Linked DNA regions of Homo sapiens. The protein of the gene in region 1 interacts with the protein of each later gene in a biochemical or structural test. Each region holds a gene or a part of one and is shown on either strand. Other genes may lie near its edges.

Region 1 (7,032 bases):
TGTCTTTGCACACTGGCCCCTTCTATTCCCTACAATGTCTCCTTATTTAGCTGTATTTTCTCTGCATGTCATTCCCAAATCATTGTTCCAGACCACAAACTAATGATAAAGATAAAGAAGACCCATCACACAGGATCTTAGAGCAGGAAGGGGTCTTAGCTTAGCTGTGTAATGTGAGTGACTTGCCAAGAGTCAGCTGATGACGCTGTTGGTGGCAAAGCCTGGATGGGAACCCTTTCCTTCCCTAAGCCAGTACTCCTGCTCCAGGCCACCCAGAACGGACCTCCCACTGAGATGCTCCCCTGAGTCCCTAAGCCTGGTGTGTTTGCCCAACAGGCCTCCAAAGGGCCAGAAGAAGTATTTTTTTTTAGATGCTGCTTCTGAAGGGTTCAGAAAGGAACCAGGAGAAAGGCAGGTATAGAGAAAGATGAATATTATCACTTTCAACAGATGAGGTACTGTGCCAAGTTTTTCCATATACTATTCCAAAGTGCTGTCTCATAAATCAGAAAAGCTAGTCAGAAAAGACAGTGTGGTGGTAATAGCATGGGCTCAGATTCACCGTCTGGGTAGAATCTAACCTCTTCCACTACTAACCTGCAAAATGGGTCTAATAAGTTTCTACTTCATGGAATGATTATGAGGATTAAACTAGATAATCCATCTAAAGTTCTATTATGTGGTGCACATAATAAGTACTTAGTAAATATTAGATATCATTCCCATTAATAAGGTAGGTTACTATTTCATTAACAAGGTAGGTACGATAATCTCCTTTTTCCAGATTAAAGAACTGGGATTCAGAACTGTAATGTACATTTTCAGGAAAACCAATATCTACAGTGAACCTGCTCTAAGCCAGGCTGGGCTTAATCATGAATACTTGCAATAATCCTGTGATGTAAGCATCATTAACTCCACTTTATAAGTGAAGAAATGGAGGCTGGAGACAGGGGAATGCATGGCCAGGAAATCTGTTACTGTTATCACTAATTTTTGAGATGCTATCGTGCTGGCTAACTTGTCGAAACATTAAACTGGTATATTTCTCAGCAATGGTGATTCAAATGCGTGAAAAAAAACATCTGTGCAATTTGTTTTCAATTATATTTACAAGGTTAAAGTATTCTGAGAAATATTATTGTCAACAGTACACTTATTTGTCCCAAACAGAATAAACTCTGAAAGAGATGCTATGCATTTACATATGAGATGTGTCAAAATGTCGTAATGTTTGCAAATGACACTTGCAATCCCCACACAGGAGTAATCTCCTGTAGATGTCCCATCACCCATCCAGGCCTGGAGAAAGGCACCACTCATTACCTCCAATTTATGGTGTTTATCTGAATTTACACCACTAACTACAAGGTGGTCTTGATAAATCACATATTCTCAAATCCTGTGAATGCACTCATGAGTGTGCATTGAGTTCTCTTTGCCTCTCACAGAAGCGCTCATTTCCATTCCTCAGAGGGACAGGAAACACCCCCAATCTATTTATCTAAAAGCTGTCCAAGTCCATCCACTTTGGGGCAAGTAATAGACTCAGATGGTATGAAAAATAAGTATTTTTCATCAAAGTAAAGCAGTTCTAATGGCAGAAGTCAAAGCTGCAGCTGCTGCTGGGAAGTATGTGCCAAGACTCTACAAAGACAGATAGTTGGCTAAATCTGATTTAATATTTAAGACCTCTCTAAGAAAATGTGATAGGTCTAATCCTTCAGGGTTGCACACAGCTAGGTAAAACAATACTCATAGCTGATGTTTACTGAGTATTAACTGAACAGCAGGCACTGATCCAAGTGCTTTTACATGGATTATCCCACTTAATCCAAATAATGATACGAGGTATGGACCATCAGTAAACCCACTTTTCAAACAGGAAAACTGAGGCTTAAAGATGTTCTGCAAAATGTCCAGAAAAGGCACATGTATAGAGACAAGAACCTCTATTCAGCATTGCCCCAGATTCACCTGCTGGTTCACTCCAGATGTTGGTATGGTATTATGTCCAAGCATTCAGAATGCCTATACCCTTCCCTACAAGTCATCTCTCTTCTCAAGGGATTCCCAAGGCTGAATGAAATATCAGTGTTTTGTTTTATTAATAGCCACCTCCTGTAATCGCCATACAGCAATCTGGTGAAAGACAGAGTGAGAGCATAAAGCTTGGCTTATACCTGGAGACAGAAGGGAGGCATCTTACTCCTTCCTCTCCCCTCCTTCCACCAAATCTGAACCTTGAGACCAGCATTCTCGCATGGCCTCATACCCACAGGCTTATCCTAAGACAGATGCGAGGAGAGGGAAAAACTGAGACTCTAACTTATCTACCCAGTTGCACACTCAAGGGAGACAGAAAAGAAGGAGCTGGCCTTGGTCTATGGTGGGAAGTAGAATGCCACAGACGGGTGTCCTGGAGACATGGTGGCTCTGCCCACAAGTAAATTTCAGCTCCATAAGTGACCAGGGCTCAAGAATGATTCTATCAATCACGCTGGTAATCAGAAGGATGACAGAAAGGAGCAGAACAGTTTTACAATCCTGAAGTAATGGGGCTCATGATGCTAATTGGCTTATTATCCCATCTGGGGAAATAGGAGTAGGGATTTCACATCTATAGAGTGAAATCTCTTCTCCTGTGAGATGGATCTGTGTTTCTCTCTAAAGGCCAAACTTTCTCTCAGCCCAGCCTGCCCAAATGCAGTTTTTCCAGTCATGCTGGTCTTTGAGAATTTTAGTAGGTCAAGAGCACAGGGAAGAACAGTCCCTGGGAAAGTACTGTCTGCTCCTCACCAAACTCTTTGATTAGAAGCCCTATTCAAGGACAAAAACACAATTTAGGCTGCCCCTTCTCACAGTGCCAGATATTTAGATTTAAAAACTTAATAAGTCAAGCCATCAGCCAGAGCTTTTCAGTCCAACATTTATTTTCTCTAAATTGAAGCTGTGAGCCTCTGCGCACTGGTTCCACACTCTATGGGCAGTGGTTAATGGCATGGTAACGAAGCCTGAAGTTCCTGCAAGGGCCTGACTTGCAGATCACTGGAAGAGCTTTTCTAAGTGACCCATGGCCCTTCTCTCAGGGAAACTTCTCAGCACTGCTCAGGGGACCACATTTACTCCCAAGTGACCACTAACTTAAACATCAGGGAGAGGGAGCCCTAAAATGGATGTTGCTTTTGTCTTAAGACATTTTTTGGTCTCACTTTCATCTTTCAATTTCCATTGCATCTCATCTCTAGGGTATTCTCCTGCCTCTGACTTTAGCTCTCAATGTCAGAACTGCCTCAGCACCATGCTAGATGCTCCCCATCCACCAGTGGTTCTCAAAGTGTGATTCCCGGACCAGTAGCCTCAGCATCATTCAGCAGCTGGTTAGAAATATAATGCATAAAAAAGAAGAGTATCTATCTATCTATCTATACACATACATACATGAACATAGAACTTATTCATTGATGAGAACGTGGATCACATTCATTGATGAGTGTGATTAGTATATATACACACACACATATACATGTGTATATATTCATATATACTATATGTGTGTGTATATATATACACATATAGTATTTTCCACATATATATATACATACGTGTGTGTGTGTGTGTGTGTGTGTGTGTCTCAGTTTCCTCATTTGCAAAACCAGGATACTACTTACCTTTCAGAGTTGTTGAGACGATTGAATGAAATGATACATGGCAGAATGGTTCTCAAACTTCAGTGTGTATTAGAATCTCAAACTTGAGCATGCATTGAGTGTGCATTAGAATATATATGCACACACACACATGCTTGTGTATATACACATATATGTGTATATATGTATACATGTATATATGTGTATATATATACATATATACACACACAAGCATGTGTGTGTATATATATTCTAATGCACACTCAATGCATGCTTTTGTGTGTGTACATATATATATCCAAATGCACACTCAATGCATGCTCAAATTTGAGATTCCAATACACACTCAAGTTTGAGAACAATTCTGCCATGTTATCATTTCGTTCAATCCTCTCAACAACCCTGAAAGGTAAGTATTATCCAGGTTTTGCAAATGAGGAAACTGAGATTTCAAAATGAAAAAGTAACTGATCAATATCACCTGGCCAGTAAGTAGGGCCTGGCCCCTGGCCACTCTTCAATCTCATATCCACTCCAGTCCTGTGGGCCTCCTGGCTCCTCCTGGAAAATGAGGCAAGCTCAGCCTGGCTGAGGGACTAGAACCCAGTGTTCCCTCTATCTCAGTGGCTTAAAAGCCAGCATGTTCATATGAATCTCCTGAGAAGCCTAAATATATATATACATATATACACACACACACACACACACACACACATTCATAATACACACACACACACGTGTATAAAACGGTTTTATTATGAAAGATTTCAAACATACACGAAAGTAGAGAGGACAAAATAATTAACCCCTATGTGAAGGGGGAGCCTCTCAAAAGGACCACCAAAGCCCCACCCTAGACCAGTTAAACCTGAATCCCTAAGGTAGGGCTTGGTATGGTTTGTAAAGCTGTCTCGAGTGATTCCAATGTGCTTGAACTTTGAGAAACACTCTCAGATTCATTTCTCCTCCAGATATTTGCATTATTCAAATCGGCCAAATGTTACTTCCACAGAGGGCCTTTCTGGACTCCCTTATCTGAAACACATCACATCACCCCTGGCTACCCTGCCATGCCATCTCTCTATCCTTTTATCTCGCTTTATTTTCTTTATAACATTTTCTTTAAAGTACTTTATAGCATTTTCCACTGGACATTTCATCATATACTATGGGCTTATTCTCATCAATGAATATGATCCATGTTCAAGAAGCTCATTCATTGAAGCAGCAGCACCATGTTCCTTCTTCACCACTTATCCCCAGGGTCTATGAAGACAGTAGCACATGGGAGGCAGTTGATGAATATCTCCCAAATGCTTAAATGAATGATAGAGGAACAGAGCTGAGACTCTCACACAGGACTATCTGACTCCAAAATCCATGCTTTTCCCACAATACCCATGGCAGCCCTGGTCTAGTTTTGCTTTAGCCTCCGGAAACAGAATGTAGTTCTTGTATGGAAGCAAGTTGTGTATTTGGTACTGAGTTTATCATAGTAGACTGTTCACATTAGTTATTAGTTATGAGGTCTCATGTGGCTCGCTCAACAACTCTGGATCTTATTTCCATTTGTAAAGTAAGCCCATTTTTGCCTATCTTCCACATCTCTTTAGAAGGATAAGTGAAAACTTATATGACAGCATTTATAATTTGCAGCATCAAATAAAGTTATTATCATTACAACATGGAGAAGAAATAAGAGAGGAAGGAAATAGAGTAGGCAAAGAAAGAAGAAGTAGAGGAAAAAGATAATGGTGTTGGACAGCATGGCTTAGAAGAAACTTTCCAGTCCAGAATTTTGTGATTTAAGAGAAAAATAGAAAACAAAAAAAAATTATCAAAAGCTGTACATCAAAATTGCCCACTTGTCCAAGAACAGGATTCAGAATAATTTGTGTCTACTAAAAAAAAGGACACAATTCTATTATTTTTATTTCAAAATACAATTTGCTACATTGAAATCTCTTTCAAGAGCCTCTACTCTTCTTTCAGTCTTTTAAAAACATGTAACAGTAACTTTGTTACAGCATCATTTAAATCATGGTCACAATTTTCTTTTTCTCTATTCTTGTTTCAAATCTTGCTCAAGAGCCCCAAGAAGCCACATAGCTTTGGCCTTAGGTTGGCCACCTCTATGCTGAGTGTGGGAAGCAAAGTGAAGGGTCGTCACAACCAGCTCGTACCACACAGTGGCAAGCATGCTATGCACAATCGGGTCCTTAAAGGACCATCAGTCCAACCGACGCCCATAACTTCATAACTAAGCCACTAGAATCTTCAGGGGAGCAACTCTATCTCAGATCCATTTCCATAGATGGAAATCTGACCCATTGCAGATCCTCAATAAAGGCTCAATGAAGTATATAAACAAATTGTCTCTGGTCTCCTTTCTGAATACAGTACTTGTGATATTATGAGCTATATATACAAAATGTATACATATACATACATATGTATATGTGTGTATATAAATATATAATTTACATATGTGTGTATACATATGTGTGGCGGCGTGTGTGTATTGGACATAGAGTATACACACACACCCACATACATACTCCAGTACTGTACATCCAATACACACACGCGCGCACACAGGTTTCTATCCACTGTTCCTGGTTCATAACTCTCATAGCCCTCGTTACAGTCTTTTGTACGTTGGTGCACTTTAGGCCTCAGGAGTTGAGCCAAGAGTTGCAAGAACTTCATTCCAGGGAGGGTCCTGCCTCATACCCTGGAAGAAGGAATGTCGCATGGAGAGGCCAGAAGAATCTGGACAGGCCTTCTTGGGTTTCCCCAATCAGTCTATTAATATGAGATCAGACCCTTTCTGTCCAGTCATATTTCAACACTGTTGTCCATGCTTCAATCATGCCTAGCCAATGAAGTTTCCATAAAGGACCCAAGAGGAGGGGGTTCAGAGAGTTTCTGGATAGCTGAACTCATAGAGGTTCCTGGAGGGTGATGCATCCAAGGAGGGCATGGAAGTTCCAAGATCCTTCCCCCATATCTCATCTTATGCATCTGTATACTTTGTAGTATCCTTTATAATAAACCAGTAAATGAAAGCAAGTGTTTCCCTGAGTTCTGTCAGCCTCTCTAGTAAATTAATTGAATCCAAGGAGGGGGTCATGGGATCCCCTATTTACAGCCAGTTGGTCAGAAGCACAGGTAAAACAACCTGGGGCTTTCAACTGGCATTACAAGTGGCAGGGAAGAGGGGGTTAATCTTGTGGGACTGGGACCTCAACCTACGGGATCTGACACTATTTCCAGGTAGGTAGTGTCAACACTGAACAGGAGGACACCTAGCTGACGTCCACCGCAAAACTGACTGCTTACTTGGTGTTTGGAGAGAAATCCTCAGACATTTGGTCACAGG
Region 2 (5,644 bases), on another chromosome or scaffold:
GAGGGAGAGGAGAAAGGATCAGGAGAGGGAGGGAAGGAGAAGGAAGAAAGGAAGAATGAATGAAGTACGCAGTAATACCTTTCATGAAGAATAAAGTAGGCTGCTAAAATAAAATAAATAAAATATGAGAGTTTTAAATAAAAATTTCCGTGGAGATGACTTAGAGATGAAGATGGAACCGGGTACTCCAGGGAAAACATATCTCTAAGTGACAGTAAAGGGACTGGATAACTCTGAGAGAACCAAAGAAAGATGAAGGAAGCTAAACTGAAGGGTTTTTCTAGATGCTACACTGATAAAAACATAAACTTCAATCCTTAAAAGTGTGTTCAACCAAGCTTCTTCAAGAGAATACAACTGTGGGTTGTGTAACCTTATTTGTCGACAGAATACTCTCATAGAAAGGGTCCACCAGAAGTGAAGTTCATGTACATTGGGCTCCCCATTGCCAAGTTTTCATTTATACTACATTCACCAGTTCCCCCAAAAAAGCAGTAGTGGGCAAGTTTTCATAACTGTTTATTCATTATAAATAGTAAATATTTACTGCACTTTTTACATGAAAGACATTTTTACAACACATTGTTGTTGGTTGAGGCTGCAACACAAAGATAGTACTTCTCTTGTTCCATCACCCTCTAAGACCAATGCATGAACTAAATTCGGTACTATGTCTAGTCTCACTAACTCGCTACGTCATAGTTCTTAACTCTAAAAGGAATGTATTTGTGCCTACCTCATTCGTGGTTCCAAGAATAGAAAGAAATAAATAACACTGCCTTCCACCTTCTTGTTCCTCTCAACATCTCAAAAAGCAAATTTATTGACATTCTAAAATGTCACCACACAAACGTATGTAAACCTCAGTTCCTATAATCTTTTAATATTGGATATCATTGTATAATTTAAAAGTACATGAGAGCCATGTGAACACTTCTGTTCTTGCCCTGCCTTTCATAGAAAAGAGAAGAATGTAAACGTAATCAGTTTAAAAGCATAATTATCTGATCTGGTCTCTAATCAAAGGAGCAACCCGGGTGTTGGTTGTCCAGCAAATGGCAAACATCACTGCACTCTATCACTATGAATTATGGGCTGTGAAAATAAAAGCACCTGCAAAAATATACTTCTGATTTTGCTTATATCGCCTTGGGCATTGCCAAAGCATCCATGAGGTACACAGTATTGCACACTGATAAGCAGATATGTGAATGCATGTCACTTTCTCTCCACCGTGCCCTTCCTCCAACCCAGGTGGGCTACCAAATAAATGTGAACTGGAAAAACGTCACACACCTCTCCCCACACAGGAAAGGGAAACAAGTCCTTCTTCCTGGTAGCCCATATCCTGTTAGCAAGACATGTCCGGGCCATTTATTGACAACTAGATTACAAATGAGGATACAGTAACAAATAATTTATTTAGGAGGTCCTTTACAGCTAGTCTAGCTTCCTAAAAATGGTTGCATTTATCTTTATTTCAATTTCCAGTGTGTAAGAGTCAAGGATTCCTCCATTCTTGCTTCATGAAATGAGCAGTTTTAAAGTTGTAGAAGTATCAGCATCGAACATCGACATGTTATACTTTAGGGTATTCTATTATATTTTAGAACAGTCTGCTTGCCCAAACCAGTCTGGGTAAATCTCAATACACACACACACACACACACGCACGCACGCACACAAGCAAATGGAATGTTCTAGCTCCTCGATGATCAGCACTAAAGAATTGGGATGTTTTGATATGTAACCATGTGAAACCATTGCCTTAAAATGTTGCATTTGTCTTTTATTGCTCCAGGTCTTCCTCTTCTCCACTGCTTTTGTCGAACGTGTTCAAAAGGATTTGAAACCAACTATTGGAGGAAGAAAATCAATCACTCTCCTTTGTCTCCTATTGGGACCACTGCCCCACCCCCCCCAACAAAAGGGTAATTTTTTTTTGTTTTCAGAGCAGATTCTTCATATCTAGGCTGCGAAGACCAGAAACAGGGCCAGTTTTAGCTCCAAGTGGACAGTTCACTTACGCGATATCTGGCTTGAGATAATGAAAGGCACCTGTAAGGAAACACACGCAGCTTTTTAGGTCATGCTGGGACAATTCACAGTCAGGGGCAAGATCAGCTACAGGCTGACAATGTCATATTTAATACCGTGCTATCAAAGGCTTGAGACTAATATTTTTATTCCTGAGACAAGTTTGACACAACTTTGTGTCCCTGGGATTATCCCCCATATGATCCTGGAGCTGACCTCATTAAGAACATGTGTTTCTAATGTCAGGGATTATTTCATTTTGGCCAACCCTTGTGTTTTACCTAGTGGCAATCAGGTTTCACGTCTCAACAATTAATAACCGCAAGATGTTGTTGACATCAGTTAAGAAAATAATTACACAAGGAAGCCCCTGCTGGAACAGTCAGCTGGCTTTGCAAAAAAAAAAAAAAATTGATACCGGCATGTGTGGCTTAATCTTGCCTCTAATTCACCTTTCTTAAGGAAGAGTTGAGTTTATCTCCCTTCCAGGAGAAATTGCCCCCTAAAAAGTCCAAGGCTTACTTTGTCCATACTGCCCATATTGGTAGCCTGTGACAGGGTCCATACTGTAGCCTGTGGTGCTATAGGTGGGTGGACAGTAGGACTGAGATGTTGGCAGACTGTCCAAGCTCTTCATATGGTCTAGTCTCTGACTGCAGCTGGCCGACACCGTGGTGGTAGGTTCCAGACCCCCGGTGAGAGGGGAGAGCGCGTAATCAGTCTGGGGCTGATGAGGTACCCCACCGTGGTTGGTCAGGAGTCCCATTACCTAAAAAAACAGCCAGATTGGGAAGAGGTTAAAATGCAGAGAGATCCAGATTGCAGCCTACAGCTGAAAGAATAACTTGACAGTCCAGTTTTTATTTCTTTGGAAATTGGTTAAAGAGCTGTCCAGGAGACTATGAACCCAATTCTAAGTGGCAGAGATATTACATCATGCCCGACGATAACATCTGACTGCAGTTGCAGAAGAAGGAAAGGGGGAGGGAGAAGAGGGGAGAAGAGGGGGAAGAGGAAAAGAAGGAAGGAGAAGAGGAAAGAGAGAGATTACACCACGTCCCTAGTGATAAAATCAGACTGGAATTTCAAAGAAGGGGGAAAAAAGGATGAAAAGAGGGAGAAATTGTATCTGTTCATACAGAAAAATGTCTATTCATACATTATATCTGGAAGTTTCACATGTGATTTTTAAACAGTCATTTGCTTATATTTTTAAAAGATAAATGAATCCAAATCAAGTTATTTTTCATGTACTTTGAGATCTCTGTGCCTTTTTTTTTTTAAATAGTGTTCCCTCTCAAGAAAGCCCCTTTCCTTATCTTGGCCATTCTTTGATAATTAGAAATATTTACTCCTTTCCTGATGGTCTCTGGTACTTTATTTACCCCTCCCACTGTATATTCATTAGTTCAGTCACCTGCTTTGACTGGTGAGAGCTTTGAGAGGAGCAATCTATTCATCTTTATATCCCAGCACCTAAAGCAGTGAATGCTTGACACATATTAAGTGCCGAATGAATGAAATGTAAATGATTCTCCAAGTAAAAGCCTCCATTACCTATTATTTTATTTCTTCTCTAAACAACCATTTCATATATATATATATATATATATATATATATATATATATATATATGAAGTGTTAAAAGGAAAGACAAGCCTGAAATGCAAACATGGTCTTAAAAAGTTCAGTTTGTAAATAACCTGGACAGTAAGACAACTTGGAAAAAAAAAAATATCCTGTGACAGAATAACTTTCAGATCAACATGGTGAAGTGCTTCACCAACTCAAGATCCCTGACCCTTACAGCACCTTGTGGTGAAAGTAAGTGGATAATTAATTTTGCAGCTGGAAAACTGCCACACGAGAGAGGAAGCGATTTTTCTAAACTATGTACCCTTCTGTGGCAGGGTTCAAAAGCAATTGCAAAAGAAATCTAACGCCAGGTCAAGAGCCCCCCCGAAGACACATCTACTTACAAAGTATTTAAATGCAGTATCCAACAATTCCACAACATTTCCATAACAGTCCTGTCTTATTTTAGGAAGTGTGAAGCCTACAGAGATTAAAGTGTGCAAATAAGAGAAAGAGGAGAGGGCAGAAATGACAACCAAGCCCTGACTATAAGCCCTCATGCTAACTGCAGAATAACTCTCATAATTCAGGCAATAGAACCTCGGATCTAGGAGTTCCAGTAAGGCAGGAATCTGAGAGGCAGGTGAGGCGGGGGGCGGGTCTAGTTTTGCTTCCCAGAAAGCATCTCAACTCAGATTCCAAAAACAAGGATCCCATAATTCCCTTTGGGAAGGGTTTGCATAATCCTTATGATTAAGTAAAATCTTCTTGAACTAAAGCTCTGAGCTGATCCATCTTCAGCTGACCCCAAAAGACAGAGAAAAAGAGATCCACCTTCTGTGGATTATCAATTATCCACTCTTCCTCCATTTTAACAGAAAATTTGAACGGATGTCCCTGCCTTCCCCAGAAATCCTGTTTTTCATTTTGTTGTCTCTCTTTCATTTGAGTTATTGTCTATGCACACACATGGGAAGGTGGGCTGGTGTGGGCAAAGCAACACAGCAAAGCCCACATTTTGAAAGACATCCCAGGAATCTAAGATTTTTTGAGATATGTGGTAAAACATCCTTTTTTACAATTTTTAAAAATTAGTTATATTTTTAAAAAAAACACACAAAACATCATTTGTGGCAGAGCCCAATTTTGTTTTATTGGGGATTTGGAGAAAGTGAAAGTCACAAAATAAAGTAAGCATCAATAGGATTGACAATTCCAGGAAGATGGAAAATCACTAGAATGTGGGTTCTTTTAGGGCCCTACCCAGCATTGTTTATAGCAATTTCTTCATTTCACTACTTAAAAGAACTTGAACATAACTAAGAATGCATTTAAATTAGTTCCTGGATATGTTTTCCATCTATATGGGTTCTTTTTGCCTTTATTTGAGCTTATATAGATGATTTCTATATAAGTGTATACTTGGAAAATTCATGAACTTCAATTGATACACTAGTTTATTATTTATGAAATTTCAGCCCAAATTAGACATTTCTTTTAGAAGAAAAGAGTCTTTAAGTTAGAGGTTGTTTGGTGCCAAACACACTCCTTTCAAATCAGGAGTACATTTTCGTGTGTGATCCTGATGGGTGAGATTGGACATGAACATAAAAACACTTTAAAATGTGATTTTTTTAATAAAAGGGAATAATCGCACAGGGCAAATATTTTACCATGAATAAGTTGTGTTAAGCAAAATTCGAAATCTTAGAAAAAGCAATTTTGTAACTATATCAGTCCAGAGAGGAAAGATATCCAGTGGCACTAAATAAAAGGAAAATAAACTCTAAATTAATATTGTCCTTCATGAAGATACTTACTTGAAATTCAGTCAATGGTATGTCACTTTAAGGGAGAAATGGAATGCTGTATGTACAGTTATACTTGATGAGCTCAGAGCAGAATTTTATTCAAAACATGCACACTTTCCCATGAGCTATATGTACATTTTTGTGATAAACTTTTTAAAAAAATCCCCTGCCATACATTTTTTGTTTGCATAACTTTGAAGGCAGCAATAACTAATTATAGG

What was found.
Region 2: the proteins of PCTP (region 1) and PAX3 form a complex in vitro, tested with the Homo sapiens proteins (one study listed by BioGRID).

Annotation. Positions count from the first base shown.
Region 1 is NC_000017.11:55,754,049-55,761,080, reverse strand, and holds part of PCTP (phosphatidylcholine transfer protein), read right to left. Parts: exon of another isoform or gene 6,993-7,032; intron 1-6,992. UniProt on the Homo sapiens protein: Catalyzes the transfer of phosphatidylcholine between membranes. Binds a single lipid molecule.
Region 2 is NC_000002.12:222,199,385-222,205,028, forward strand, and holds the end of PAX3 (paired box protein Pax-3), read right to left. Parts: intron 2,807-5,644; coding exon 2,560-2,806; coding exon of another isoform or gene 2,540-2,559; exon of another isoform or gene 2,329-2,539; intron 2,059-2,328; coding exon 2,024-2,058; coding exon of another isoform or gene 2,020-2,023; 3' UTR 1,857-2,019; coding exon of another isoform or gene 1,790-1,856; 3' UTR 503-1,789; downstream 1-502. UniProt on the Homo sapiens protein: Transcription factor that may regulate cell proliferation, migration and apoptosis. Involved in neural development and myogenesis. Transcriptional activator of MITF, acting synergistically with SOX10.